3 separate regions of the Homo sapiens genome follow, and all the other regions are linked to region 2. The links come from fine-mapping of genetic effects on gene expression. A gene starts in region 2. Each other region holds a variant in brackets. All regions are shown on one strand. Distances are between the middles of the regions. Region 1 has its middle 48 kb from the start of PEPD. Region 2 holds the start of CHST8 (carbohydrate sulfotransferase 8). Region 3 holds the start of LOC100996681 (a long non-coding RNA gene).

The links. PIP is the estimated chance that this variant, and not a neighbour inherited with it, causes the effect.
Region 1: its variant is fine-mapped to the expression of CHST8 in tibial nerve (GTEx, PIP 0.91).
Region 3: its variant is fine-mapped to the expression of CHST8 in ovary (GTEx, PIP above 0.99).

The regions. Positions count from the first base shown.
Region 1 is chr19:33,564,742-33,574,710 of GRCh38, forward strand. No RefSeq gene overlaps it. Among named protein-coding and RNA genes, the nearest start is that of PEPD, 48 kb to the left of the region's middle. RefSeq lists enhancers at 1,572-2,404, 2,405-3,236. The variant G/A (reference allele first, on the strand shown) is at 5,291.
Region 2 is chr19:33,616,397-33,626,365 of GRCh38, forward strand. CHST8 (carbohydrate sulfotransferase 8) reads left to right here and starts at 5,557. Exons shown (of 5, transcript NM_001127895.2): 1 at 5,557-5,900. RefSeq lists an enhancer at 4,518-5,262.
Region 3 is chr19:33,546,099-33,556,067 of GRCh38, forward strand. It overlaps LOC100996681 (a long non-coding RNA gene), which reads left to right and starts at 6,990. Exons shown (of 3, transcript XR_158931.5): 1 at 6,990-7,452; 2 at 8,970-9,969. The variant G/T (reference allele first, on the strand shown) is at 4,196.

The sequences.
Region 1 (9,969 bases), 52 kb before region 2:
AATGAAGATGGCCATTGTCTGAAGTGAGAAGAATGGGATAAAAAAAAGAAAACAAAAATCGGAGAAGTCCTACTGAAACTCAGTGAAAGCGTCAGCTACATTTTGCAAACTTCAAGGAGTTTCTGTCAGGTGCTAGGCTGCTGAGACCAGAGTGAATTTTTGGCTTAAAGCAGACATACAGCCCTCTCTCCAGGGGAGGCAGCATGGTGTGGGAAAGAAAGTCAAGGACACGCTAGTGGAAAGTCATGTCCTCCTCTCCAGGGTGAGCATGCAGGGGCGGCAGCCGTTGGGGAGATGGGGCCAGTGCCTGCCTTGTCTTAAGGGCCTGCAGACACCCCAGCTTCAGATACATGGGCACAGTCTTGGCTGCACCTAGAAGCCCTGGGATGCTGACGTGAGCATTTCCTGGGATGGAGGAACTCCTTCTTGAACCCCCTCAAACTTGCAGAGGTGGGCTAGACATGAGTAGGCTGCTCATGAGCACCTTTTGTGTCCGGGAACCAGCAGTCATGAGGATGCTTTGTTGACCGTGAAGACCCAGTGTTTCCAGCAGGCAGAATTCTGTGGCCTGGCCTCTTCTCCAATGGCCCCTTCACCACTGTAGTGAGCTCCATCTGCCCTTGGGGCCCCCTTCCTGAACAAGAGAGATGCAGCTCACTCACACAGTGGGATGGGGATGCCCTCAACTTGACAGGCAAAAGCCTGGGCATGAGAGTGAGCTCAGCTATCCAGCCCCCTGAAGAAAAGACAGATGGAGCAGAAAACCGTATTGTCATGATATCAAGGAAAGAGAAAAAACAGAATTCTAAAAATATTTACTCCAGGAAACAGATGTAAGGTTTTCTTTCCAAAATGAAAACATTGAATCTGCAAACCAAATGGGGAAGAGAGGATGAGGACAAGCTGTGGTGGAAATGGAGCTGGTAGTCAGGTAAAGCATCCAAGGACACAAACATCACAGCAAAATCGCAGAAGGGTCAGCGACAGGGAGAATCTGTGAGAACCCTGCAGACAGTGGACTCGGTGACATGGAGCATAGGTTTGAGAGGCTTTTTCAGAGTGCACCAAAAACAAAACAAAACAAAACAAAACAAACGAACAAAAAAAGGACCAGAGAAGTTAGAAGCAATAATCGGCAGAGCAGCGGCTTTGAAGAAAAGAGATTGGAAATCCAATCAGGAGGATGGGTGTTAATGAAGAAAGAACATGACTAACAAGGAAGAAAAAATATTCAAAAATAAAAGAGGAAAACCTGGCTGAACTGAAGACAGATCTAAATCTGCAGGTTGAAAGGGTTTGCTAGAGACCAGGCAAAACTAGTAAACATCAAAAGATAGTGGTGACACACTAATCGCTTGGATTCATGAGGAATGAATACCTACAAAGACATAAACAGCAGGCTGCCTTGGTTCTCTCCCTGCACTCCTTACCGCCTGCCCTCCTTGGAGTAGGGCCTCACCCTGCCTTCTCAGCATCTCTTTTCTTTCCTTTCCTTTTCTTTTTTCCTTCCTTCCTTCCTTCCTTCCTTCCTTCCTTCCTTCCTCCCTCCCTCCCTCCCTCCCTTCCTTCCTTCCTTCCTCCCTCCCTCCCTCCCTTCCTTCCTTTCTTCCTTCCTTCCTCTCCCCCCTTTCTCTCTCTCTCTTTCTCTCTCTCTCCCTTCTTTTCTGACAGAGTCTTGCTCTATCGCCCAGGCTGGAGAGCAGTGGTGCAGTCTCGGCTCACTGTGCAACCTCTGCCTCCCAGGTTCAAGTGATGCTCCTGCCTCAGCCTCCCGAGTATCTGGGATTACGGGTGCCTGCCACCACACCTGGCTAATTTTTGTATTTTTAGTAGAGATGGGGTTTTGCCATGTTGGCCAGGCTGGTCTGAACTCCTGACCTCAGGTGATCTGCCCGCTTGGCCTCCCAAAGTGCTGGGATTACAGGCGTGAGCCACTGCGCCTGGCCTCTCAGCATCTATTTCTCTGCCTTCTTGATCACCCCTCCCTGCGCCTCAGTCCATCATGGGGGAATCCCAGGTGAGATGCACTTGTACTCCTAGCGTTACAGGAAAGGGATCCCAATCCAGACCCCAGGAGAGGGTTCTTGGATCTCGCTCAAGAAATAATTCAGGACAAGTCTGTAGAGTAAAGTGAAAGCAAGTTTATTAAGAAAGTAAAGGAATAAGGAATGGCTACTCCATAGACAGAGCAGCCCCGAGGGCAGCTGGTTGCCCATTGTCATGGTTATTTCCTGATGTTACGCTAAACAAAGGTGGATTCATGCCTCCCCTTTTTAGACCATAAAGGGTAACTTCCTGATGTTGCCATGGCATTTGTAAACTGTCATGGCGCTGGTGGGAGTGTAGCAGTGAGGACGACCAGAGGTCACTCTCGCCTCCATCTTGATTTTGGTGGGTTTTGGCCCACTTCTTTACTGGAAACTGTTTTATCAGCAAGGTCTTTATGACCTGTATTTTGTGCTGACCTCCTATCTCATCCTGTGACTTAAAATGCCTTAACTGTTTGGCAATGCAGCCCAGTAGTTCTCAGCCTCATTTTACCCAGCTCCTATTCAAGATGGAGTTGCTCTTGTTCACACGCCTCTGACACTAGTCGTCTCACTGCAGAGCTGCTGAGCTGCCTTGGATACTGGGCTAATCTTCAGAGACCAGAAGCTGGCAAGGCTCACAATATGAGCCTTGGCTGCTCACACCTTCCCCCAAGGGAATCCCTATGTGCAGATGGGGTTTGGATAGGCAGAGGGGAGAGACCCCTCCTTCTGCAAATTCAGGCCAAAGATGGGTCAAGCCCTGAAGAGCAGAAGCCACATAACTTTTGGGCCACACTGTAGACCCAGTGGGTGAACTGCTTTTCTCAGCCAGCAGGTCCACTGGGGCTCACCCAGGCTAAGCTAGATGCCCCCTGGCAAGGTTGCCAACTCCCTGACCTCTACCTAACGACCCAGGGAGGGGAATGGCTTGCCAGCCCATCACTCCTGCAGCAACTGTGGTGGGAAGGATGAGAAACGTAATTAAAATCTCAGGCATCTTTTCCCAAGGGTCATTCCAGCTGAAGAGCCTAAATATCATAAGGGTATGAATGAGCTGCATTTATTATTTTCACCATGGAGACGTCCAAGAAAACTGACCTTTTCAGCTTCAATAAAAACGGATTTTCCTGCAGATACTTTGACAACAGCTGTGATCATGAGCTTGGCTGAAACTTAATATTAAACACCAAAGACCAGGAAAAAGAGATGCCTTCCCAAGGCCTGGGAGAGTTACTGACACCCGCTTGCAATTAGACACTGGTATGGGCATGGCAGCCTGAGCCCAGCTCACAGAGGCTCACTCACTCCTCTCTGGATCCAGATGGCTGAGGAACCCACTCAGCATCAAAGCCACCTATTATTTACGCGTTTAGTTTAAGGCATGTAGCACGGGACTCAGAGCAAAGCTGCAGTAGCAGACTGCCCTGGAATTCAGCAGGACTAGGTTCCGGTCTGCTTGGATTCAGCATCCCCTCCTGTCATGTGACCAGGAGCCCCAGACATCACACTCTGGCTCGTCTTCCCCTAAACACAGCCCAGAGCTGACCCTCCTGCCATGACTTGGCCATACTAGTTGGCAAAAAGCTTGCCAACTTCCTGCCCCACCATTTCTACTGACCATGGTAGCCAATACCCAGAGGAACAGATGACAGTCAATGGCAGCTGCTGCCTTGCACTGAAATCAGGTGTTGGACAGTAACAAAACCTTGAGTTCCCTCTAAACACCTGTGCCTGACCCCAGGCATTTTGTCCTCCCTGTCCCAACCCTGCTGAAACCACCTTTGCCAAAATTATGACTGAGAAAATTATTACAGTAAAAGAGATCTGACTGAACCAACTCCGTCTTGCTCCTAACCTCCAAGTTGTCCTTGTTCATTCCTGGGCATAGGCCGAACTAACTTTGGGAGGAACTTGGTTTACAGTTTAATTTTGAAACAAAGATGATAACAGCCTTTTCCCAAAACAAACCCCCTTCTTGCTTGGGGACTAGACTGCCTTTGCAGGACTAAAAAATTAGCCACATAAGATTAGAAATTATGGTGTAGGAGTCACTGTTGCAAAATCTGAGATTGGTGCTTTTGCAGATCTTCTGCTCCAGTGCACCAGCTGATGCCACCCAAATCGATAAACTGGCTCATCTGGTCTTGGGGCCCCCCACCCAGGAGCTGACTCAGTGCAAGAGGACAGCCTCACCTCCCGATGATTTCATCTTCAACCCAACCAATCAGCACTTACCACTTTCCAACCTTCTACCCACCAAGTTACCCTTAAAAACCCTTGTCCCCCAATTTCTGAGGAGATTGATTTGAGTAACAACTCTGTCTCCTGTGTGGCGTGGCTGGCCTCTTGTCAGTTAAACTCTTTCTTTACTGCAATGCTGTGGTCTTTATTTGTGCAGTGGGCATGAAGAATCTCTCAGGTGGGTACACTGCCACCATGAAAGTGAAGCAATTTAAAAAGGTATAAAACAATAAGGACAAAGGCAAATGAGGAGAGAGTAGCAACGAGAGATTTCAATGAATTTCAGAAGGCAGAACTTGGAGGAAGGCAATCTTACTAGGCAGAGCAGAGAAAGCACCTGAGGTGCTTTAGAGGAGACTGGTGAGCATGAGCCTGTCAGAGATGTTTGAACCACAGCAACTCCATCTTGAATAGAGGCTGGATAAAATGAGGCTGAGACCTACTGGGCTGCATTCCCAGATTGTTAAGGCATTCTAAGTCACAGGATGAAATAGGAGGTCAGCACAAGATACAGGTTATAAAGACCTTGCTGACAAAACAGGTTGCAGTGAAGAAACCCACCAAAACCAAGATGGAGACGAGAGTGACCTCTGGTTGTCCCCACTGCTACAATCCCACAAGCAGCATGACAGTTTACAAATGCCATGGCAACGTCTGGAAGTTACCCTCTATGGTCCAGAAAGGGGAGGCATGAATAATCCACCCCTCGTTCAGCATATCATCAGGAAATAACCATAAAAATGGGCAACCAGCAGCCCTTGGGGCTGCTCTATCTATGGAGTAGCCATTCTTTTATTCCTTTACTTTCTTAATAAACTTGCTTTCACTTTACAGACTCATCCTGAGTTCTTTCTTGCACAAGATCCAAGAATCCCCCCTCTCTTGGAGTCTGAATCCAAACCCCTTTCCTGTAACATGCCCATTAACACAGAACCTCAGGCAAGTGGTGGGGATGGATTCCGGAAGCTGGGACTGGGAATGAGAGTTTAGGAGGATTAAAAACAAGGGAGTTGGATGAC[G/A]TCACAGAAGAGTGCAGTTAGAAGCTGCAGGAATCTTTCCCTCCACCCTAACAAGTTTTGATCTGGCAAGGGCTGTCTAAAGCAACTATTTTGGAACTCTGCAGTCTAGTTGAACACGTTCGGCATCCAAGAGAAAACTTAATGGAGAAGCTGGTGAATTTTAATACATTTCCATGTTTGCGTACTGGCTACCATCCCCCACCTGCCAGCCCCGTGGCAAACAGCTGTGGGGACAGTGGCCTGCATTCCTGGTGTGACTTGCTGGTGCCAGGGTGGGGAATAAGAACCTTATCCTCCAAAAATTAGAGTTGTGTGTTTTGATTGCTGATCCTTTTGACCTCTGGGGGACTGGCACAGAGTCCAGCCATTGTTTCAGATCACAAGAGCTAGAGCAGCTTTTCTGCTGTGAGGGGATTTAAAGAGACATGACTTCCCTGTTCCCTCCCCTCACCTCAACAATTTTGGGAGCCAAACATTTAAGGAAATCTTTGTCAGGTCATTGACTGACAGAGACAACGGAACAGGAACTTCAAGGACCACATGCAATAAGCAATCACAATTTGTAAAAATAATCTGGAAAAAAATCACAGATGGATGGCTCCATCCTTAACAAGCAAAAATCCACAATCCTTGAGGAGTGTGAGAGTTAGAGTTCCAGGATTACCACAATAATAATCAGAATGCCCAGTACTCAACAAAAAAAGTACAAAACATACAAGGAAATAGGAAAGTATGACCTGTTCACAGGAAAAGAACATTTGACAGAAACCATCCCCGAAGAAGACCAGACATAGGAATTACTAGTCAAAGACATTAAATCAATTATCTTAGACACATTTAATGAGCTAAAAGAAACCATGGATTAAAAAACCAAAGGAAATTGAGAAAATAATGTCTAAAAAATGAGAATATCAATAATGAGAAATTATAAGAAAGGAACCAAACTGGTCTTGGAACTGAAAAATACAATAACTTAAAATGAAAAACTTACTGGAAGCATTCTACAGCAGATTTGAGTAGGCAGAAGAAAGGATCGGCAAACATGAAGATAAGACAATTGAAAGTATCCAGTCTGAGGAACATAAATAAAAATGAATGAAGGAAAATAAATAGAGCCTGAAGGATTTATGGGATGTCATCAACTATAACTATGCATTATAGGAATTACAGAAGAAGGAAGAGAAAGGGGCAGAAAAACATATTTAAAGAAATTGTGGCTAAAGGCTTCCCAAATCTGATGAAAGATATGATATAGATACTCAAGAAGCTCAACAAACTCCAAACAGGATAAACTCAAGAGATCCATACTGAGACATATTATACTCAAATTGCCGAAACCAAAGCAAAGAGAGAATTTTGAAAGCAACAAGGGAGAAGCAATTCATCACGTACAAGGTATCATCAAAAACTTAATAGCTGATTTCTCTTTAGAAACCCTGAAGGCTAAAAGGCAGTGGGGTCACATATGAAAGTCCTGGAAAAAAAACTCAATCAAAAATTCAACATCTGGCAAAACTATTTTTTAAGAATGAGGGAGAAATTAAGACATTTCAAGAAAAACAAAAGCTGAGGGAGATCATTACAAATAGACCTGCCCTAGAAATGCTAACAGGCTGGATACACACACACACACACACACACACACACACACACACACAAGACAGTAACTTGAAGCTGTAAGATGAAATAACACTAACACTGGTAAAGGTAACTACATAGATAAATATAAAAGCCAATATTATTTTTCCTTGGTTTGTAACTTCCTTTGGTTTGGATTGGTTTTGGTTTATACTTTTGGTTTGGTTTGTAACTTCTCCCTTTTTCCTACCTGATTTAAGAAACTAATGTATACAACAATAATTGTAAGTCTATGTTAATGGGCACATAAGGTATAAAATGTAATCTGTGACAATAATAATGTAAAGAGGAGGGATGAAGATGTATAGGAACAGAGTATTTATATTCTATTGAAACTATTATCCAAATTTAATTGTTATAAGTTTAAGATGTTATTTGTAATCTCCAAGGTAACCACTAAGAGAATAACCTAAACACATATAGAAAAGGAAAGAAAAATGGAATCAAAATGATACACTACAAAACAAATCAACTAAATTTTTAAAAAGGCAGCAATGGGGGAATTATACAACAAAAATCATGTAAGACATACAGAAAACAAATAGCTAAATGGCAGAAGTAAATCCTTCTTTATCTAGAATATATAAAAACTCCTGCAAATGGACAATACAACAACGAAAATCCCCAAACAACTCAATTTTAAAAATGGGCAAAGAATTTGAATAGAAGTCTCTCCAAAAAAGATATACAAATAGCCAATACAAGATGATTGGCTAATATCATTAGTTATATGGTTCAGCGTCCAAGAGTCCAATATGCTCAATATCATTAGTCATTGGAGAAACGCAAATCAAGACCACAATGAGATATCACCTAACACCAATTAGAATAGCTATAATTTACAAAAAAGAAAAAAAAGTTTAAAAGCACACCAGAAAATAACAAGTGTTGATGAGGATGTAGAGAAATTGAAAAACTTGTGCATGGCTAGTGGGAATGTAAAATGGTGATGCCCCAGTGGAAAACAGTTTGGTGGCTCTTCAAAAAGTTGAACATAGAATTATTATGTGATCCAGCAATTCTGTTCCTAGGTATATATCCAAGATATTGAAAAACAGGGATGAAAATAGATACTTGTACACCCATAAGCAGAGTGTCACTGGTGAAGGGTGTTCAGGTTCTTGGCATTTTGAACAAAGAATTGGACAAAATGCAGAAACAAAGCAAGGAAAGAATGAAGCAATGAAAGCAGAGATTTATTGAAATAAAAGTACACTCCATAGAGTGGGAGCAGGCTTGAGCAAGCAGTTCAAGAGCCCCCTTGCAGAATTTTCTGGGGTTTAAATACCCTCTAGAGATTTTTTTTATTGGTTACTTGGTTTACACCCTATGTAAATAAAGTAGTGGTTTGCAACCAGTCTAATTGGTTGCAGAAGGTGGCCAACCAGAAGCCGAAGTGAAGTTACAAAGTTACAGATGAAGACTTGGTCTGTGACCAGTCTGATTGGTTGCAAGAGGGGACCAATCAGAGGTACTTTCGTCTTTCATCTGCAATGCAGAAAAGGGGTTGGGAGTTGCAAAGGGAGTAGCCACTGATCCTTTTGTTACTTAAAGGTAGGGTTTTCCTCTTGATTCAGTTCTAGGAAGTCAGCATGGATCAGCCTAAGGTTCTCTGCCTCCAGACTCTATTCTCCTGCCTCAATAGCTGCATTTTTCAAAATAGCCAAAAAGGTGTAAACAACCCAAGTGTCCATTAATGGATGAATACATTTTAAAAAATGTGAGATATATATATACCTGCAATGGAGTGTTATTCAGCCCCAAGATGTACTGAAATTCTGACCCATGCTACAACATGGAAAAACCTTGAAAACACTATGCTAAGGAAAAGAAGCCAGACATAAAAGGGAAAACATTGTATAATTCCACTTGTATGAAGTATCTAGAATGGCCAAATAAATACAGACAGAAAGTAGAATAGAGGTTCCCAGGGGCTGGGGCAGGAAGGTATGGGGTGTTATTTCTTAATAGGTACAGAGTTTCTGTTTTGGATGATGAAAAATTTCTGGAAGTAGATAGTGGTAATGGTTACAAAACATTGTGAATGTACATACTGCCACTGAATTGTACACCTAAAAAGGGTTAAAATTGGCAAATTTTATGTTACATATATTTTACCAAAAAATTTCAAAACCAGAGGAATTGGTGAAAAAGCTGTAAATTGAGCTTCTGAAATGCCAGAGTCTCTCTCCTTGCTCAATATCCAGGAGATGAGAGGCTGGAGTTTCATTTTATTAGGAAATTGAACCAAGGAGTTGAATTTTAGGGCATCAGGCATAAGAGATGTCTGGGGAACAGTGTGGATTGCTAGGCCTCCTTCACTCACCAGATATGGCATTTCCCCAGTCACATACCACCCACCCACCACCACCAACCCCCACACACACCACAGCACATTCCACACACCATGCAAACACACTCCATGTTCCTGGCTAGAATATCAGCAGGTTCTTTCTGGAATAACTGGGCTGTCACTGAGAGAAGAACCCCACACATTGCATATGTAGTCTGTCCAGTAAAAAGACCAGCCTGTTGCTTGCTCAGCCTCCCAGGAGTCCCGAAAGAGAAGAAATGTAGAAGGCTCAGTCTGCCTGGTCAACAGCAGTCCACAAAAGACAACAGAAAAAACAAATGGGAGGAAATTGTAAAAATACTATAAGGCAGTTTCCCATGGTTGAGGGACATAATTCTCTTCAGTTAAAAAGCCCACCAATTGTCCAGCACAAGAAATGAAGTAAGTTTACTTCAGGGTTCATCAAGGTCAATTTTTAAGTGACAGAGATAGGAAGAACTAAATGTTTTCAATGAGAAAAAAAGTATAGAGCCTGTGATGTGCCCCTCTGATACCCCTTCAGGAAAACATGTGTTGTCCCAGATGTCAGCAGGTGGCTTCCAGATCTCAGCCCTTCAGGGGTCTCTACGTGTTACAGAGAGGCACCTCGCCCCAGGTCATGCCTAGGTGATCCATATCCGATGGCTGTTAGATGTTGGAGCATAAAAGTGAGGATATCTTTGTTCAGTTCAGGACCCTCTGAAAAGTT
Region 2 (9,969 bases):
GACCTCAATAGAGTAGCCAAGCTGGCTCCAAGCCTGGTTTGCATGGAGGGGCTGGACTTGGCTTGGGCATGGCTCTGTCTTGGGCTCTGGGGTCAGCAAAGCCCCCTGCAGGCCTGCCCACCTCAGGCTGTGGGGAGCGCATCAGGGCCACCAAGGCAGTGAGTGGTCTGCAGCTCTAGGGATGGCGACCCATCCTAGAGAGCCAACAGCTGCCCCCAGAGTACTCGAACCTTATTCCCTGGTTCCTGCCTTCTTCCCTCCTGGGTACTCAGCGCCTCTCTGCTCTGTTGGATTCCCCAGTGTCCTTTTAAGAAAGTCTGGCAGGGCATGGTGGCTCATGCCTATCATCCCAACACTTTTGGGAGGCCAAGCAGGAAGATGACTCAAGCCTAGGAGTTCGAGACCAGCCTAGGTAGCACAGTGAGACCCTGTCTCTACAGAAAATAAAAAATAAAAAATTAGTTGGCCATGGTGGTGCACACCTGTGTTCCCAGCTACTCAGGAGAACGAGGTGGGAGGACCCTTTGAGCCCAGGAGTTTGAGGTTGCAGTGAGCTAGGGTCATGCCACTGCACTCCAGCCTGGGTGATAGAGTGAGATTCTGTCTCAGAAAAATAAAGTCTCCCCTTTCTTTGCAAGTTAGTCATAGTTTCTGTTGTGCACTCTCTAGAAAACCACATCTGTTCACCAACTCTCTTCTGTGTTAAGGACTGGTGTCACTTTAGCCTGCCCCAGAAAAACTTCTCTTTAAAGAGAAACTATTCCTTTTTTTTTTTTTTTTTTTTTCAGACGGAGTCTTGCTCTGTTACCCAGGCTGGAGTGCAGTGGCGCCATCTCAGCTCGCTGCAACCTCCACCTCCTGGGTTCAAGCAATTCTCCTGCCTCAGCCTCCCCAGTAGCTGGGATTATAGGCGTGCACCATCACGCCTGGCTAATTTTTGTGTTTTTAGTAGAGATGGGGTTTCACCATGTTGGCCAGGCTGGTGTTGAACTCCTGACCTTGTGATCTGCCCTTCTCTGCCTCCCAAAGTGCTGGGATTACAGGCGTGAGCCACCATACCCAGCCAAGAGAAACCATTCTTATACCCTGAGGAATGATGGTGAAATTTCGAAATTGTGACAGGTATATGGGGTTCAGGGATGCCCAGAACCCCCAGCAATGTTGCTTATGCAGGGGATACCCACCCAGGCATATTGACATCAGGAAATTTCAGACAACTCAACTCAGAAGGAAACAAAGTGACCCTCCAGCTCCTTGAAAACCCAAGAGGTGACAGAAAAGGGGAAAGGAGAGAGGAGGAAAAGGCCTGGGAAGGAACATTCATCCCATAAGGTGGCCAAGGGATACCTTGGCTGGAAATGAGTCTGGGCCACGTTCCCTGGTGAGGAACTTTTAGGAATCATGGAATTGCACAGCAGGCCTTCAGATCCTGGGCCCCCATCCCTCATCTTTCGAATGGGGAGGTCGAGGCCTGGGGAGGGAAGGCATGGCCCGGAGCCCACACAGGCCCCAGAGAGCAGCTGAGGAAGGCAGGTCCGTTCCCAGGAGGAGTCTCCCGCCTGGATGGCACTCTGATCAGCACGTCACTGGCCTGTCTGTGTGTTGAACTGACTTCAGGAAGCCTTGGGGTCACAATATTGCAGAGGCCATTACAGGGCCAGATGTTGGACGTGGAAGCAAGGCCAGGCCACGTCATACCCTGAGGTGACTAGTCTGTGGGTGGCTAAGGGCAGTCTGGTCACAGGACTCCAATTCCCAAAATGCCATGACACCCTTCACCTTTCCTCTGCAGGGACAGTCTATTGTCTCTGCATACAGGGAACAGGCTCTGAGGGGTTAGGAGACAAGTTCAAGACCCCCTAGCTGGCACCTGGGAGAGCTGAAGCAGACCTCCTGGCCCATCCCATCATTCCCTTCTTCCTCCCATGGGATGCAGGGAGACAGATGAGGTGTTCCCGACCTGCCAGTATAGATGGCTCCCAAACTCCTCTGTGGAACAAGTCTTCTTCTTCTTCTTCTTCTTCCTCGTCTTCTTCTTCTTCTTCTTCTTCTTCTTCTTCTTCTTCTTCTTCTTCTTCTTCTTCTTCTTCTTCTTCTTCTTCCTCTTCTTCTCCTCCTCCTTCTTTTTCCTCTTCTTCCTCTTCTTTTCTTCTTCTTCTTCTTCTTCCTCTTCTTCCTCTTCTTCCTCCTCTTCCTCCTCTTCCTCCTCTTCTTCCTCTTCTTCCTCTTCTCTTCTTCTTCTTCTTCTTCTTCTTCTTCTTCTTCTTCTTCTCCTTCTCCTTCTCCTTCTTCTTTTTTTTTTAATAGAGTCTCACGCTGTCACCCAGGCTGGAGTGCAGTGGCACAATCTCAGCTCACTGCAACTTCTGCCTCCCAGATTCAAGTGATTCTCCTGCCTCAGCTTCCTGAGTAGCTGGGGCTACAGGTGAGCACCACCATGCCCTGCTAACTTTTGTATTTTTAGTAGAGATGGGGTTTTGCTATGTTGGCCAGGCTGGTCTCAAACTCCTAGCCTCAAGTGATCTGCCCACCTCAGCCTCCCAAAGTGCTGGAATTACAGGCATGAGCCACCATGCCCAGCCTGTTCTGGTTCCTCTCATGGCAACAGATGGAAGGTTCAGGACTCAAGACTCAGTCTTGCCAAACACAATGTGAGACAGTCTCAGCTTCCCACTGTGCCACCTTCAGCCTCCAGCCCAAAGACGGGCAGGAACCTTCACTTGCAGGAACGGCCTGAGGAAAGGGAGCCCAGAGCCAGTGGAGGCGGGGGTCTGCCTGCGTCCCAGAGCCAAGCCCCCTCCTCTTTCCTGTATCCTTGTTGCAGCAAACAGATTGGCACCTGAACCTCTCTATTAGCCCTTCTGGGGCTTAGGCTGTGGGCGCATGGGGCCATGCACTAAAAATGTCTTTCACCTTAGTTGGGATGCAAAGAGACAAGTTTGCCACTAATCTTTCGGTGGAGACACACATATCAAAAATCGCAAGTGAGCACACAAGGCTTCCTGCAGGGAATTGCAGCCTTCCTGCTCCTCCCTCGCTGCAGAGGCTGAGCCTGACTTTCAAAAAAGGGCACGCAGCCCTTGGCAAATCTCGGAGGAAAACTCACTGCGAGTTGGTGCCAGGGGCCTCAGGCCCCCTTTGGGGATTTCCCCCATGGCCTCTCAAAACAAGAAGGAAGTCTGAGTTAAAAATGGAAAATGGAGAGAATGTCAAAGGAATGCAGCGTTATTGATTCCTAGTGGTGTCTGCCTGAATATTAGATGCAAATAAGTGCTAATAAGTACAGTTGGGAAAGCTAATGGAAAAACCATCCTTCCCAGGAGGATCGCGGCACACAGATGCACAGTGTTGCTGAGATGGCTTGGCTCGCTCCACTCACTGGTCACGGCAAAGCCTGTATAGATGCATCCCAGGGAAATAAAGCCTGTGTAGACTTGTCGCATGGAAGTACTCATGGTCCAGAGCCCCCTTTCCAGCTTTGAGGCTGGGCTCTGGAAATGGGAGCTCCTATTATCTCCCCATTGCAGTTAAGTCTCTCTTTCTCTCTCCGTGTGTGTGCATGTGTGTGTGTGTGTGCATGCATTTGCCCTCTGGAGTGTTCATGGTACTGAAGAGATTCTCTTGACCATCAGGCCTCTGTGGCAAAAGTTGTGTGCTCTGTTCCAGGCCTAACTGCAGACAGGGAGCTCATGGGCAGCTGCCCAGCCAAGCTATGGTCAGGACCTTGGGTGGCAAGAGGGGCTGCAAGTGTGGGGTAAGGGGACCACAGGGACAGGGATGGGGTCATTGCACTGTGAGCTAGTCCGGCAAGTGACTTTTTGCTCACTCCACTCTCCCCTCTCTTTGTTCCTACCTTCTCTCCTGCTCTGCTCCAACAGCTTTGGGATGTAGGATGAATAAGGGTTCCACTGCCCTGTTTTTCCTGACACTTGAGTCCCTGGCCCTTGCACTCAGCTCCTCCAATCTGCACCTGACTGAGGCGGAGGAGGGTGATTTCAGACACACACACACACACACACACACACACACATTCCCCTCATGCGTGCAGCCAGTGGAGTGTGCCTGGGTCCCAGCGCAGCCCCAGGCCTGGGTCACTCCGAGCCTAAAGTCCTGGAAAGGGAACCCCAGAACAAAGCCTATCCCAGTTTGGAATCATCACACCTGGGCCATTCTCCAGATGCGTGGAGTCCAGCAAAATGGTGGCATTTTTGCATCTCAATTCGCTCATCTGTAATACGGGAGTGATAATGTCTACTCTGTTGCTGCAAGAATTAAAGGAAGACCATGATCTCTTTGTCATGCTTCTATTTATCTTCTTATCTGTCCTGGTCTATTTTTGGATGCTCTGAGCTTACCTGGGGCATTAAGGAGGCCTCATGGCCCTGGGGCTGAGGGGCTCCCTGGCCGTCCCCAGGAGTGGCTCTGCTCTCCGCCTGGTGTCCCCCACTCTGGTCAGTCAAGACCCATGGGCCCAGCTCACTCCCCAATTCCATCACTCACTCTAGGTCAGCTGGTAGGAGTCAGGCCAACCAGCCAGCAGGTACCATTAGAGAGGAGAGAGTAAGGGTCTTTCACTTTATTAAAGGCTTCTCTGCTGTTGTTTGAAAATACTGAGTGTCCCTTCAAGACTAACAGGTGACTGTGTGCACAGTTTCCTCCAGCTCCTGTGAGAAAGCAGTTGCCCCCCTTCCCAAGGCCTGCTTGTCCCCTGCAGGCTGGGGCTGCCTCTTCTTAGGAAGAACAAGGACCCGAATCCAGGGCCCCGTGTTCCTGTCCCTACTCTGTCCCGGTGCTGTGTGGCCGTGGGCCGGTTCCACCCTCCACGCTGTTTTCCCGAGTGTGTATGAAGAGGGTCGGTTGGCCCCGCTCTCAGGCTGGTGACCCGACACAAACTTCCAGGATGAAGTCCTGAAGGGAGCACCTGTTCGCAGGGCACTTTCAGCAGAATCTAGAGCCCCAGGGATTTGAGGATGGATGCGGACACCCGGGCCTGAGGCAGCTCGCGGCCTTGACCGAATTCCACGCGAGCTGAAGCCCAGGGATATCCCAGAATCTTCCTCAGGATCAATCTTCCGCCTTTCACCGGCCCTGCGCCCCCGCAGCATCGGGTCCTGGGCGCGCGCCCCTGCCCCGCTGTGGTCAAGGCCCGCCCCGGTGACGCCTGGTCCTTTTCCCGGGTTGGCGCCGCGTGCGACCCACCGAGGCAGTGGCAGCACTGGCCGCGGTCTGGAGCCTAGCGTCAGGCCGGAGTCCGGCTCTCCTGAACCGGGAGACCGGCGCAGCCCCAGCCACGACCGCTCCCACCCCCGCGGCCGCCGGACCGCGCCCAGCAGCGACTCTTTCTGAGAGCGCTGCCAGAGGGGCCGCGGGAGCCGCAGAGCGCGCGTGGGCGCGGCGCCCGCGAGCCCCCGGGAGGGCCGAGTGCATCGCTGGAGCGATCCCCGCCCGGCCCGGCCACCGCCGTAGCCGCCACCACGGCGGGGCGGGGCACGGGCCGGGGGCGGGGCGCCGGGCGGGCGCGGCGCTATTTCCAGCCTCGCCGGAGGCTTCGCTCTCACTTCGCTGGGAGCCTTCCCGGCGCGCAAGCCGGATCCGGCAGTGCTGCGGGGAGGAGAGAGGACGAGGCGGCGGCGGCAGCAGGAGGTGGGGGACCGATCGCGCCGGGGGCCGAAGAGGAACGCCGCCCCGCGCCCTCTCGCTCCCCGCACGCTCCGGCTGCCGGCCCCACGCTGCTCGCCCACAGATCGCACTGGGTTCCGCTTGGAGCGGGCGGAGGCACCGGGCCCGAGCTGGGTCGGAGGTCCTCTCCGCCGCCTGCGCGCCCCAAGCAGAGGATCCGCCGCGGAGAACCGCTCCCGGACTGGAGGCGCCCGCGGCCTCGGGTGCGTCCGCTGCGCCAGGTAAGTGGCTGCGCCCCTGCCCCACCCCTGTTCCCGCCCTGCGCAGGCTCCTGGCCTGCAGAGACGCCAGGAAGGGGTCCCGAGCGGGCCCCGGACTGCACCGCTCGCCATCCCCGCCACCGCACGCGAATGGGAGTCCGAAGCTGCGGGCGGAGGTGGGCGCGCGGGGCTCGGGTCTGGTTGCACTTTGGGGACCGGCCCCGGTAGCGGGAACTTTAATTAGACTTTCTCTCCTTGGATCTCACTCGCTGCCGCGCTTCTGGGAACTGCCGTCCCTCGGGCCCTCTTGGTCCCTGCGGACTCCCGCTCCGCCTCCTGGCCCTCGGTGCTGCCCGCGGGGAGGCGGCGTCGGGCGCTGAGCAGCGAGCGCCGAGGGCCAGGCAGGAGCGCTCGGGGCGCTGGGGCTTCCTGGCGCGCTCGGAGCCGGGGCTCCGGACGGGTTGCGGCGGGCAGAGACTATGGGGGAAGTTTAAGTGGCCTTGGCTTCCTACCCAGCGGCTCCGTCGCGCGCGTCCCCGACCCGCAACTCTCCAGGGCACCGGCCTGTGAGTGCTGGAGGCGAGTGTGCGTGCGTCAGCGATGGTGTGAAGGTGTGTGCGTGCGTGTGTCGGGAGTGCGGGAGTCGGAGCCTGGGGCGGCTCCAGGGGGCGGGGAAATGATCCGTTTGGCCGCGGGACCGAGCCGAGCTCTGACGGCGGCTGCAACTCCGGCTACCGACTCTGCAGACCCGCTCTGGCCTCGCTGGAGGCCAGCCGGGCCAGGAGGGCGATCACGGGTTTTGGCAGTGCCCGATGCTGGGGCTTGGGTCTGATGTGACCCCGATTCCTTCTCCAGTGCGGGACTCCCGCCGCCCTAACTTTCGCGTACATCTTGTCTCCAGGCCCGCGACCCCGACCCGGAGTTGAAGCGGCTGCGGCGCCCTCGGCTGTGGGCGCTGCTGCCCGGCTGTCTGTTTTAACCCAGAAGTAGGCGCCGATCCTGGGGCTCTCTGTCCTGCAGTCGTCTCCGGCGTCCCAGAGGACTCTGCGTCCCTGGGCCACTCCCGCTGGCTCAGGAGCCGTGATCAGCTCCGTTAAGGGGAACGCGCGTCCCGGCCCCTCTCCATCTGCTTGGCGCGATCTGGCGCAGCAGCAGAGCACGTGGGAGAGGCGTTGGGTGCAGGGAGGTAGTAGCTGCTTTGGAGTGGATGGTGGAGAGGGGCGGGGGACAGAGGGGTAAGAGGCAGATCAACCCCCTTTTATTTCCCACCGCCGCCCAAGGCCCCCAGGAGCTACAATACCAAGCCCACTTTCCTGGGTAACCTTTCTCTTCTGAGTTCACCTTGACCCTTGCCTACCTGTGGGGAAGTCTTTCCCTAAGTCCTGCCCTAGGACAGGGCACCCGTGGAGCAGGTGTGGCAGAGCCCTTAACATTTTCCAGCTGTCATGACCTTTCCTGCCCACCCTGTGCCCTGTCCCAAAGGCAAGGCAGACAGGCCACAGGAAGGACACTCATCCCAGCAGGAGATCCTCTTTTAATTTTAATCAGGACACCCCAAGCACAGAAGGCGGCGTGGGAGTTCATTCAGGAGCGTTCAGCAGACTGGCCTCTGTGAAGTGACCCACGGGAGGAATAACATTGGAACCCTGAAGAGAGGGACCTCTTGAGGGTCTGAATGTTGGTTCCAGTGGGACTGGCTGATCAATTATCCAATAGCATTTGAACACAGAAAAACCTCAAAGCCGGAACCTGACCCATTGCCTGGCCCAGTCGCCCTGGGACACACAAACAGTGCAGCTCATTTATTTACTTATTTATTTATTAACCTGGAATCAGACTCGGCAAGAGTGAATTATGTTTCCCGGGTATTGATTTTTAAAAAGACCCCAAATTAAAAAGTCAAGGCTTTCTTAAAGCAAGGTCAAGGATTAATTATTTATCGAGAGGCATCCATCAGGCAGCGTGGGGGCTCATTTATAAATTGCCTGAGCAGGCAAAATGAGCATCTTTTGATTTTCCTTGGCTCCAGTTGGGAGAGGAGAGCAGGCTCGTCTGACCTCCTGGGCTTGGTAGAACATCCCCCTCGGACTGTAACCGACGACAGAGGATGCTTTGTAACTCAGCCTGCTGTTAGAGATGCCTTTATAATCTTGTAGCCAGAATATCACTTGGGAAATTTCATGCATATTTGCTGTGTTTCCATAATGAACATTTACTGATTACAGGGTATCCAGGGAATTTCATTTTTTAAACATTTATTCAAATCTCTGTTTATGTAAGCTAATAAGTCTGGGAAAGTTCAAAAACGACTTTTTTGCCGTATGGTTGTTGAGAAAGTGTGTCTGGTGGGCTACTCTCAGAATTTGTCTTCAGTTCTCTTAAAAAGGGGAGAGTCAGATTTGCCTGATTGGAAACCTCGCGCAGGCTGCTCCCCTGCTCTGAGCTCTGAGTTCCTGCCAGAGGCAGCCTGATAGGCTTTTTGTGGTTTTGCTGATGGAAGAGAGGAAGGGGAGCTTTGATCATTGCTGATGCGTCTGGCTGGAGAAATTTTTAGTGAGTGCGGCTGTGCTTGTAGGGGCTGATGGGGAAGGTGTGGCCCAAGCTGAGGTCCCTGGCTGATGTCCCCATCTCCTGCCTGCTGCCTGGCCTGGAATCTGAGATCCCTGTCTTAGCTACATCTGCTGCTTTGCAGCTTGGAAAAACCTCCCTCCCTGATTTACTGGTGCGTGGCAGCCACACTGGAGAAACGTGGGGCAGCGGGGAACCTGTGAGCAGGAAAGAGGACACAGGATTATGGCAGCTTTCTTTCTTTCTTTTTTTTTTTTTTGAGATAAAGTTTCACTCTTGTTGCCCAGGCTAGAGTGCAATGTTGCGATCTCTGTTTGCCACAAGCTCTGCCTCCTGGGTTCAAGCAATTCTCCTGCCTCAGCCTCCCGAGTAGCTGGGATTACAGGCATGCGCCACCACTCCCGGCTAATTTTGTATTTAGTAGAGACAGGGTTTCACCATATTGGCCAGGATGGTCTCGATCTCCTGACCTCGTGATCCGCCCACCTTGGCCTCCCAGAGTGTTGGGATTACAGGCGTGAGCTACCGCGCCCCGCATGGCTGCTCTTTAGTGAGCAACCGTGGCAATTAGAGCCGATAAACACCATGTGGAATGAGTGGCCAGCCTTTCAGCTAACCAGAAGGTGACGAGTTATAAACTGGAGATTTATATAGTGCTGGCCCAAGGAGATCAATGTGACCCGGCAGTGGCACAGCAAAAAATGAAATAAATAAGTAAATATGTTTTTAAAAGATCGGCCAGGCACGGTGGCTCACGCCTGTAATCCCAGCACTTTGGGAGGCCGAGGTGGGTGGATCACTTGAGGTCAGGAGTTTGAGACCAGCCTGACCTACGTGGTGAAACCCAGTCTCTACTAAAAAGACAAAAATTAGCCGGGCATGGTGGTGCTCACCTGTAGTCCCAGCTACTCAGGAGGCTGAGGCAGGAGAATCACTTGAACCTGGGAGACAGAAGTTGCAGTGAGCCGAGATCATGCCCCTGCACTCCAGCCTAGGCGACAAAGCGAGACTGTCTCAAAATAAATTTTTTTTTTTAAATTGAGGTTGGTGCCTGGATGTAGATATGGCATCAGTGTCCTGCAACCTCAGAAAGTTGGCTGGGCATGAGCAATCTGCATGGTGACAGCGTGGTGACAGTAGGCTGTTTGGTGCTGTCTTTGGCGCCATATTCAGGGCTCATCTGACTCCAGAGCGGCTGTGTTCCCTCCAGAGGAAACCCACGGACCCAGACAACCCGGGGACAGAGCTGCATTAGCTCAGGTGCCAGAGGATGCGGCAGACGCCATCTCATTTCTTATCAGCTGGAGGATGTGTGACCCTGTGGTCAGTAAATCAGCATGGCAGATCGTGAGGCTTACAAATTGGTCATGGAAAAAAGTTGTGACTTTTACCCTGTACAAAACTACCTGTCATTTGTGATGTGGTGTTCTAGCCTGCACTGGCTGGATTCATTCCCGGACCCTTAGAAACTCAGCAATGCAGCCTGGGCCACCGAGAGACTGGGGAAGCCTCCGTGCAGGTG
Region 3 (9,969 bases), 70 kb before region 2:
AGGGATTCATCAAAAGTCCACAGTGTTTCCCGCACCTTCCAGGTCCCCTGTCTGTCTGGGGTCACCCAGGACCATCTGTCTGTCACCACAGCGGTGTGGAATGCTGAGGATCACCTCTGTGGTGACAGACAGATGGCCCTGGGTGACCCCAGACAGTCGAAAGGATGACTTACAAGTGGCCCAACTGGAGAGATTCCCATAGGGCTGGCTGCAGTGGAAAGTTGCTGCCAAATGCCCATCTCGTTCCATAACCCTCTCTTGGTGCAGCAGCAGTGCATACAAGTGTCCCAGAGGGACAATGACGGCTGCTTCAGCTTGAATCACAAGGGAGGAGGTAGGGTGCTGGATACACTCAATTATCACCCCAAACCCTATCATCACTCATAATCTGCCTGAGATAAATCACAGGCAGGTAATTATTATGTCAGGCCAGGTAGCAGAGAGGAGTTCTAAAATAGCAGTCAAGGAACTTCCTGGTTAATTCAAATCCATCCTAACTCCCTCCAGGGGACAAAAGTGCTTTGGCTGTAGAATTGACCAGGCGGAGAGAAATACGATTGCTTGATGCAAAATGGGAACTCCTGGACTTAATGTTTCTCTCTGTCAAGTTTCAGAATAGCACACCTGTCAGAAACCCTAAATCAATGATCCACCATCCGGCGTAAATCATACTGCAGGGATGTCCTATTTTCTTGGTGTCAAAACCAACCTCCCCAGCCTGCTCGCCAGACCGTGTCCACTTCTGCTCAGCCCAGGCCTCTGGACCCAATTAGTCCTGCCTGCTTGGCTTCCCACACCTGTACTTCTTCCCCCATCCAAATGCCACCAAGGCCCAGCTCAAGCCACCTGGCCCCCAAACCTTCTATGCCCAGGCCCATCCCTGGATCCAGCTTAAGCGATTCCACTTCCTGTCCCCACTGCAAAAGGCCAATGCTGGGTTTATCCATCCCTGAACTGGTCACAACCCCAGATCTGTGGCTCTCCTAGAGCTGGGTCTCCCTGTTCTTATCCTTTTGGCTTCTGGAGCCAGCTCTTCTGCTGGGCAACAGAAACTGCTTTGGATTCACTTAAGCCAGAAGAGTGGAGGTGGGTTTACTGGAAAGATGCTGTTTGTGGGGAGGTTTCTTGGAGTGCCAAGGAGCAGAACACCCGATTCACCCGGGCTGAGTAGACCCCTGTCCAGGGCAGGCTGGCCTCAGGTGGGGCTGGATTCAGGCACAATCTCTGGGCTCTGGCTGACTCTGTGGACGACTTTCCTAGGCTCTTCATGGTGGCAGAGTGGTTGCTTACACCTGTCCAAGTGCAGGTCCACTTGGACATGGCAGACGATTACTCCAAGTTGCTCAGACAAAAGCCCTGGGCTAGGGCCAGGTGCAGTGGCTTAGCCTTTAATCCCAGCACTTTGGGAGGCCGAGGTGGGTGGATCATCTGAGGTCAGGAGTTTGGGATCAGCCTGGCCAACATGGTAAAACCCGTTTTTACTAAAAAAAAAACAAAAAACAAAAATTAGCCAGGCGTGGTGGCGGGCGCTGTAGCCCCAGCTACTCGGGAAGCTGAGGCAGAAGAATCGCTTGAACTCAGGAGGTGGAGGCTGCAGTGAGCTGAGATCACACCATTGCACTCCAGCCTGGGTGACAGAGTGAGACTCCATTTCAAAAAAAAAAAAAAAAGCCCTGGGATTAGTCTTCATGAGGCCTGACTATGTGACCAGAGGCACATGCCCACCTCAGGGCCAATCCTGGTGGCCACGGGAGAGCAGTGTTCTCATGGGCAGAGGCCCTGGGTCACAGGCTGCTGCCCAGGTGGACGGGGCAGCTCCACCTGCAGCTCATAGACTGAGAACATGGGAGTAGTGATTCCCACAGGTCAATCAGGGCACCAACAAGAAGGAATGGATGGTGGGCAGCTCCAGACCAACAAACACCGAGAAGTTGGCTCTCTGGACCAGAGAGACTGCTGAACAAAATCAGACTGGCCTGGAGGCTGGAGTTTTGGGGTTTTCCTCTCCCTGGGACTGGCCATGAATAAGGCACTCAACTTCACCACCTCTGGTTCCTGGAAGAGAAAATCCACTTGGCCAGTTCTGAATCACAGGTGCTGCGGCCAGGGCCTGGCCGAGTCTTGGGTACATTTCCAGAGAAGGCAGAAAGGGCTTTGAGAGCCAGGAGACATCCTCCCAGCAGCTGCTAAAATGTGGATGTCGCTACTGTTTTTGTTTTTTTTTTTAGACGGAATCTTGCTCTATCACCCAGGCTAGAGTGCAGTGGCGAGATCTTGGCTCACTGCAACCTCCGTCTCCCAGGTTCGAGCTACCCCAGCCTCCCGAATAGCTGGGATTACAGGCGCCTGCCACTGCGCCCAGCTAATTTTTGTATTTTTAGAAGAGACGGGGTTTCACCATCTTGGCCAGGCTGGTCTTGAATTCCTGACCTTGTGATCCACCCGCCTCGGCCTCCCAAAGTGCTGGGATTACAGGCATGAGCCACTGCACCCTGCCGGATGTTGCTACCGTTGCAACGCAAGCCACCTTAACTTTTTGTTTACCCCAAATTAGAAATTAAACAATTTTATTTTCAATGTCACCAGTATGTGATGCAATTTCATGATGATGGTTTATCTGAGTAGAAAATTGCCCTTGGTATCTATTCTACCCTCCTCTGCTCTGGAGGCCTGGGTATAGCTGAAGCCACAGCAGGGATGGGGGCAGGTAGGGAGTGGGAGTTGGCGAGTTGCCCATTTTCTCCCTTCCCTGGGGTCAGGAGGAAAAAAAATGCCATTAATTTTGTTGTGATGAAAACCCCATCTCTACTAAAAATACAAAAATTAGCCAGGTGTGGTGGCAGGTGCCTGTAATCCCAGTTACTTGGGAGGCTGAGGCAGGAGAATCGTTTGAACCCGGGAGGCAGAAGTTGAAACAGCGCCACTGCCCTCCAGCCTGGGCAACAGAGTGAGACTCCATCTCAAAAAAAAAAAAAAAAAAAAAAAAACCCACAGATAAATTTGGAGAGAACTTGAATCTTTACAATAGCGAGTCTTCTCATCTGGGAAAGGCCCATTTCTCTCTGATCCTCCAGGATGTTCTCAGCTCCAGCCCCTCTCCCCCACCATCCCAGGAATAGCAGTGACCTTTTGTACATATGCCTTAGTCCCTCATCCTCCAGATACATTTAAGCGCTTTGTCTCAGGCCTCCCTGCCAAGCCCACATCTGCCACCAGCCTCGTGTCCTCTCCTCCCCAGCCTCAAATCCTGCGCTGGCTGGATTTAGGAACTTGGGCGGCATGTTCCTCCACACCTCCAGGCTGCGGTTCACCGGCACGCTCCTCCTGTCTCATCCACCAGGGATTCCTATCTGTCCCTTACATTGTTTCCCTCTCTGTAGAGCCAAGCGGGAAGGGCCATGTTCACCTTTCAGCTCGGTGCCCCACCCCCATCCCCCAGTTGCTCACTCACATGCACAAGTTCATCTTGCTGCACCAATGAGTCTTCTCCTCCATGCTCACCCAGTCTTCCTTGGATCCCCAGGTGTCGTCCTGGGTGTGTCCGGTGGTGGGTGCTCAGTAAACGCTTGCTGGATGGAAGGGGAGACAGCACCACTGTGGGGGGCGGGGACTGTGTTTCCACCAGCCCTCGGTAGGATCTTTTTTTTTTTTTTTTTGAGACGGAGTCTCGCTTTGTCACCCATGCTGGAGTGCAATGGTACAATCTCAGCTCACTGCAACCTCCGCCACCCGGCTCCAAGCGATTCTCCTGCCTCAGCCTCCCGAGTAGCTGGGACTACAGGCGCCCAACACCACTCCCAGCTAATTTTTGTATTTTCAGTAGAGATGGGGTTTTGCCATGTTGGCCAGGCTGGTCTCATACTCCTGGCCTCAGGTGATCTGCCCGCCTTGGCCTCCTAAAGTGCTGGGATTACAGGCGTAAGCCACCATGCCCAGCCCTGGATTGAGAATGTTCTAAAGACAAGAGCTTTTGGGAACGCTGCAGCAGGAGACTTGCAGGTGTGCAGAGGGCTCTTGGGGGCCTCATGAGCAGCTGGAGGTGACCCCTCTCCCCACATGTCTTAAACAAGGGTACTTGGCCAAGACAGTACAACTGGAAATAAAGACAACGAAAAACAGTCCAAAGATTAGAAAGCAAGAGACAATATTATCATTCTTGGCAGAGAATGTTTATATTTACCCAGAAAGTCCAAGA[G/T]AATTCATTGCAAAACAGAACTGCTAAGAAAGCCTGGAAAAGTGGCCTGATAAAGACCCATAGCTTCCTGCATGCCAGGGACGAGCTGACTGGAAAATAAAGTGGAAAAGGCCTCATTCACAGCATCAATAAAGTGATAAATGACACCAGCTTAACATGAAATAGGCCAGACCCATACAAAGAAAAAGAGAAAACCATAAAAAGGGCAAAAAGACGTGCCTCGTTAGAGAGAAATGGTTCTTCCCCGGATGGGAAAACCCGCTAGCGTGAAGATTCAAGTTCTCTCCAACTTTACCCGTGTTTTTATTGCAATTCCAATGGGAAAATAATTCCAAAAACATTTTCACTGGTGTTTGCCAGAAAAATGCTTATGTTCCTCAAAAAGAGGAGGTGCAGGCTGGGCGCGGTGGCTCACGTCTGTAATCCCAGCACTACAGGAGGCTGAGGCAGGTGGATCACTTGAGGCCAGGCTGGCTAGCCTGGCGAAACCCTGTCTCTACTAAAACTATAAAAATTAGCTGGGTGTGTTGGTGTGTGCCTGCAGTTCCAGCTATTCAGGAGACTAAGGCAGGAGAATTGCTTGAACCTGGGAGGCAGAGGTTTCAGTGAGCCGAGATCATGCCACTGCCCTCCAGCCCGGGCAGTAGAGGAGGTGTGGTAGGGCTGAGGCGCATTGCCATACCCCTGTGTGCATGCCTGAAGGGACAGGGAGGGGACTTCCTCTCCAGCTGCCTAGAGGAATATTGCAGCCAGCTCTCTTAGCAAAGCCACATGGTCACCGTGAGCTTGGGAAGTGTGGGGGCACCTCCTATGTAGTACTGGCTCTGAGAGGCTTGGGCCTTAGTGCTGTTTTCCCCTAGTGGGGGTCCCTGGACAAATGATGTTGCCAGCAGTGTGTTCCAAAACCACCACGGTGGGAGGGATGAGCGTCTCCTGCAGGTCATGACACTCCAGGCTGGAAAGCATCAGAGAACAGAGCATGGCTGTGGGCCCTGGGGAAGGGGACCTGTCTTAGTCTGTGTGGGCTGCTATAACAAAATGCCTTAAGCTAGGTGGCTTATAAACAACAGAAATTTATTTTTCACAGTTCTGGAGGCTGGGAAGTCCAAGATCAAGGCCCAGGCAGATTCGGTGTCTGGTGAGAGCCCGTTTTCTGGTAGAAGGTGGTGCCTTATATGGTGGAAGGGGCCAGGGAGCTCTTTGGAGCCTCTTTTATATGGGCACTCATCCCATTCACCTCCCACAGGCCTCATTTCTAACACCATTACATTGGTGATTAGGTTTCAACATATGAATTTGGAGGGGAGTGACTGAACATCCAGACCACAGCACGATCTAATTGGCTGAGCCCAACTCACAAACTAGACTTGCGAGATGGCTGTCTGCCGAGGTCTCCTTGGCCCTGACCGGGCAGAGGGGGCTCAGTAGGGCTCTTGAGGGTCTCAGCATTGTGAAGAGCTTGGGGCAGAAGGGTAGGGCAAGACAGGAGGATGGTGAGGGCCTGGCTGTTGGCCACAGAGTGACCTCTGTCCCCACCCTCTCCCGGGGCTTCCTAGGGCTGGGAGGCAGAGCCTGGAGTCTTCTCTGGTCTGCAGCTCCTTTGTTGTGTGACCTGAACTATGCTTCTGCTTGGTGTCTCAGTTTCCCCATTGGTAACTGGGGCGTTGACTGGATTTCAGGGCTCAACTGGGCTCCCTTTCTCGGCAGGTGGAAATTGCCATCTTATAAAGGGGAACCTGGATGCTGCTGGCTGGGAGCACTGGGTGGACCAGGCCACAGCCGAAGGCCCAGGAGAGGTGGAGAGAGGCTCCATCCTGAGTGGGGCTCTTCTAGGCCCTAGAGTCTCAGGCCACTCATGCCACTACAGAGGGAGAGACAGGGGCTACATAGGGAGGGTGTGGACCAATGAGGGGTTCAGGGTTCCCAATCCCACATCACGCCTTCCCGTGAACCTGGAGATCTCTCCTGTCCCAACAGGCCTGGAACCAGCTGTTGGCATCAAGGCCTTGCACGCATGACCCAGACAGCTTCCCCTCTCCCTCCTTCCAGCCTGCTGCTTCCATACTAGATTCGGGGCCATTTTGCCGCAGGATTCATCGGAGGGCCGAGAGGGAGCTGCCGGCTTTTCCACCTCCGAGCCGAGGTTACTCTCAGATTCATGGGAAGCCATAAACCCGCGCCCTATTTCTGCTCTAATTGAAGCGATTTGTATTGTGACTAAAATAATCAGAGACAATTTTATTGGTATATTTTTAAAAATAATTACAGCCCATATATTTATGTTATATAACTGCAGTGACAATTTGATTGGGTTCCCCAGGGCCCCAACTTGAAGAGCCTGTGTGGGAGTGGCCCCATCCCTGCCTTCAGCACCCTCCACCTCCCCCAAATCTCGGGCAGAGGTGATGTTGACAGATGCAGTCCCCAAGGCCTGAGGCTCGGTCAGGGACTTTTCAGTGGGCATGTCTTAAAAATTTTGGGACAGCCATGCCAGCCCAGCGACCCCAAAGCGCCGTAGGGAGGTTGGGAAGAGATGGAGGGGGGCTCTGGAGTCTGGCTCAGCTCTGGCCTTTGTGGTGGGTGTCTGTGCCCTGCCATCCAGCATGCAGTCACTGACCTTCTTCTGTTCTTCTCTGGGGACCTCCTGCCTTTGTCCTCCTGCTTCTGAACAGCTGACTGTCCCAAAAACTCTGGGGTTGACCAATCAGAGCATCACATTCTCCAGCCATGGTGATTGGTTCAGGGCTAAGCACATGACCCAATCAGAGCCAATGACATTGCACATGCCCCAGATGGACTCCCGAACGGTTGGGGATCCCGAGCCGCAGGCTGCCATCTTGCCCCATGTGGGCACTGGAGAATGGGGCTAGTGTAGAGAAGACCCTAGAAGAGAGATGTGGATGGGACAGGGTCCTTGTGGCATCATTTGAGATTCTGAACCTGGAGCTGGGGCTGCTCCCAGAGTTTTTGGATATATGAGCCAATACATCCCATTTTGGCTTAAACCTGCTGTAGCTGTAGGACTGTGACCAAGAGTTCTATTTCTATGAGTCCCGCAGGCTTGTTTCCCCACCTCTAAAGGGAGAGAGTAATCACTCCCGTGGTCTGTTATGCCTCGTCATTATCTGTGTATAGTAGAGATATCTTGGTGTATAGCACCAAGCACAGGACTTGGACAGAGTTAACCACTCAATAAACAGCAGCCATGGCCGTCGTCAGGAGCATTGTGGAGCACTGGATGCTGTCGCTGGTATAAGGTGTGGGCAGAGGAGACAGGGAGAGGTTACCAGGCAATGTCCCAGCCCAGAAGGAGGCCCTGCCCCCACATGCTTATAGGTGGCAGAAGCACGGTTCCTGCTGGCTCAGCAATGCCTCCTTGCCTTCTTCCATCAGGGCCCCTCCTGCTCAGCCAGGGTCCCGTACTGTGCCCAAACCAGTTCTGCATTGTTCCTCCCCAAATAGCTCAGGCTGGAAGGAAGGAGCTAGGGAAGTGAGGAGGGGCTAGGGAGGGGGAAGAGCAGCGGCCATAGCTCCAGCACAGTAGGATCTGACTATGGGCGGGAGAGCCTCGATCGCGGGGTGCTCTGGTGCCCAACTTGGCTCCTTCCTCTTAGCGATCGCCCCAGCTCTTTGCTGAGCTGTTGGATGCCTCAGTGTTCCCAGGCAAATCCCCCTGGGGCCCTACCTTTGGAGCTGAGCTGTGTCTGGCCTGCACATCCACCAGCACCACACCAACACCGGGCACTGAAGACCAAAAGCGGATCCAAACTCCCACCCGCTCTGAGCAGGTTTTCTCTCCTACGGCAGCCTTCACCCGGAAGCCACAGCTGTTAAAGCTGCTAGCGGGTGGTGAGGGCCTTGTGGTTCTGCACCCAAGAAAGCCTTCTCTTCACTGGCTTCAAACCATCTTAGTCTTAGATAGCAGCACGGGCCTCAGGGATAGCCCCCAGGTCTACCTTGTGGGAATGACACCTTCCACTCCTGGAGGCTTGTCCCATGAGTCCACTAATAGGGAAAGGGCTGAAAAGAGCGCTGGGGCTGAAACATTCAGCTGGCTGTTGGGTCCCCAGGCCCTCCTGACTGCACAGTTTAGTGGAGACGTGCAAACTCGCCCAGTTGCACACACTCACATGTACACATATGCACACGCACACACACACGCACACTTTCACATGGGCATGCCACACATACACACATATGTGCGTGCTCATACCCACGCACACTCTCACATGGGCTTGTCACACATACACACATGTGCGTGCTCACATCCACACACACTCTCACATGTGCACAATTGCACACATGCACACTCTCACAGGGGCATGTTCACACCCACGCACACTCTCACATATGCATAATTGCTCACATCGGCATGGTCATACACATGCATACTCACATTGTGTACACTTACACACACACACACACACACTCCTACACATGTCCACACTCTCATGCATGCTCTCACATGAACCAAAATACTTGCCTCTTCTGCCTATAGCAGAGCAGAGGTGCGTCCGTCGATGCCCCATGGTGTTTCTCAGGATCCACGCATCCCATGTACTGAGTGTTGTTAGCCGGGAGATTGCCTGCTCCTGTGTGGCTGCGCTCTCACCAGTCCTGAAGGTCCTTATAAACATTGGTGCCACCCATCTTGTAGGACATTCTCTGCCCGGCCCCAGGAGCCTCAGCAGAGGTCCCCTGATTTCAAACATTCTTTTCTGTCATTAGAGCTTATGTTCCACAGATGACTTTGAAAATCTTGCCACCTTCACAGGCCCAGACATGACGGTGCAGAGGACATCAGGACCAGCAGGACATAAAACCCTCACGGTCACAGGGAGAAAGTCAGATCCCGGGCACCTGACACAGCCAAGCCCTGCTCTCAACATGTGTATGACAATGGGTGTGATAGAGGTGCCCCCTGCCTCTGGGTCTGGGTTACATGCCCCCTTCTTTGAGTCCTAGAGGGAACAGCCTGATAGTGGGCACACCCCTTCCTCTCCCTGAAATGACCTGGCAGACCCCCTTCCCCCAGTGATGGCCTTAGGGATTCCCAGCCATCACCCCTCCCTCCAGGAACCCCTCATCCCATCCTTCCATAGGGCCACCACACAGACAGGCCCTCTCGACCTTTCCCACCATGCTCTGCACAACTAGGATGGGCAGTGCCCCACCCAAAGCACTGCATGCCCCGCTCCCCATTGTCACAGTAGGTACAGGACATGGGTCTATTAGATCTTAGACACTACAGTCCGTACATGCCAATCCATTCCCAGAAGACCTCCCCTCCCCACCCCAGTGTCACTGAGCCACTTCCTCCAGCACAGCCCCACGGAGGGAGGCCCTTTTGTGTCTTGCCCATCACCTGGCTGGCCAGATCTGCTCAGCTCTTCCCTGACTCAAGAAAAACAAGAGAGCTTCATTAGTCCGTTTTCATGCTGCTATTAAAAACTGCCTGAGACTGGGTAATTTATAAAGGAAAGAGGTTTAATGACTCACAGTTCAGCATGGTTAGGGAGGCCTCAGGAAACTTACAATCATGGCAGAAGGCAAAGGGGAAGCAAGACACCTCCTTCACAAGGCAGCAGGAAGAAGTGCAGAGCCCAAGAGGAAGAGCGCCTTATAAAACCATCAGGTCTCGTGAGAACTCACTCACTATCACGAGAACAGCATGGGGAAGCTGCCCTCATGATTCAATTACCTCCACCTGGTCTCTCCTGTGACACATGGGGATATAAGGATTATAATTCAAGATGAGACTTGGGTGGGGACAC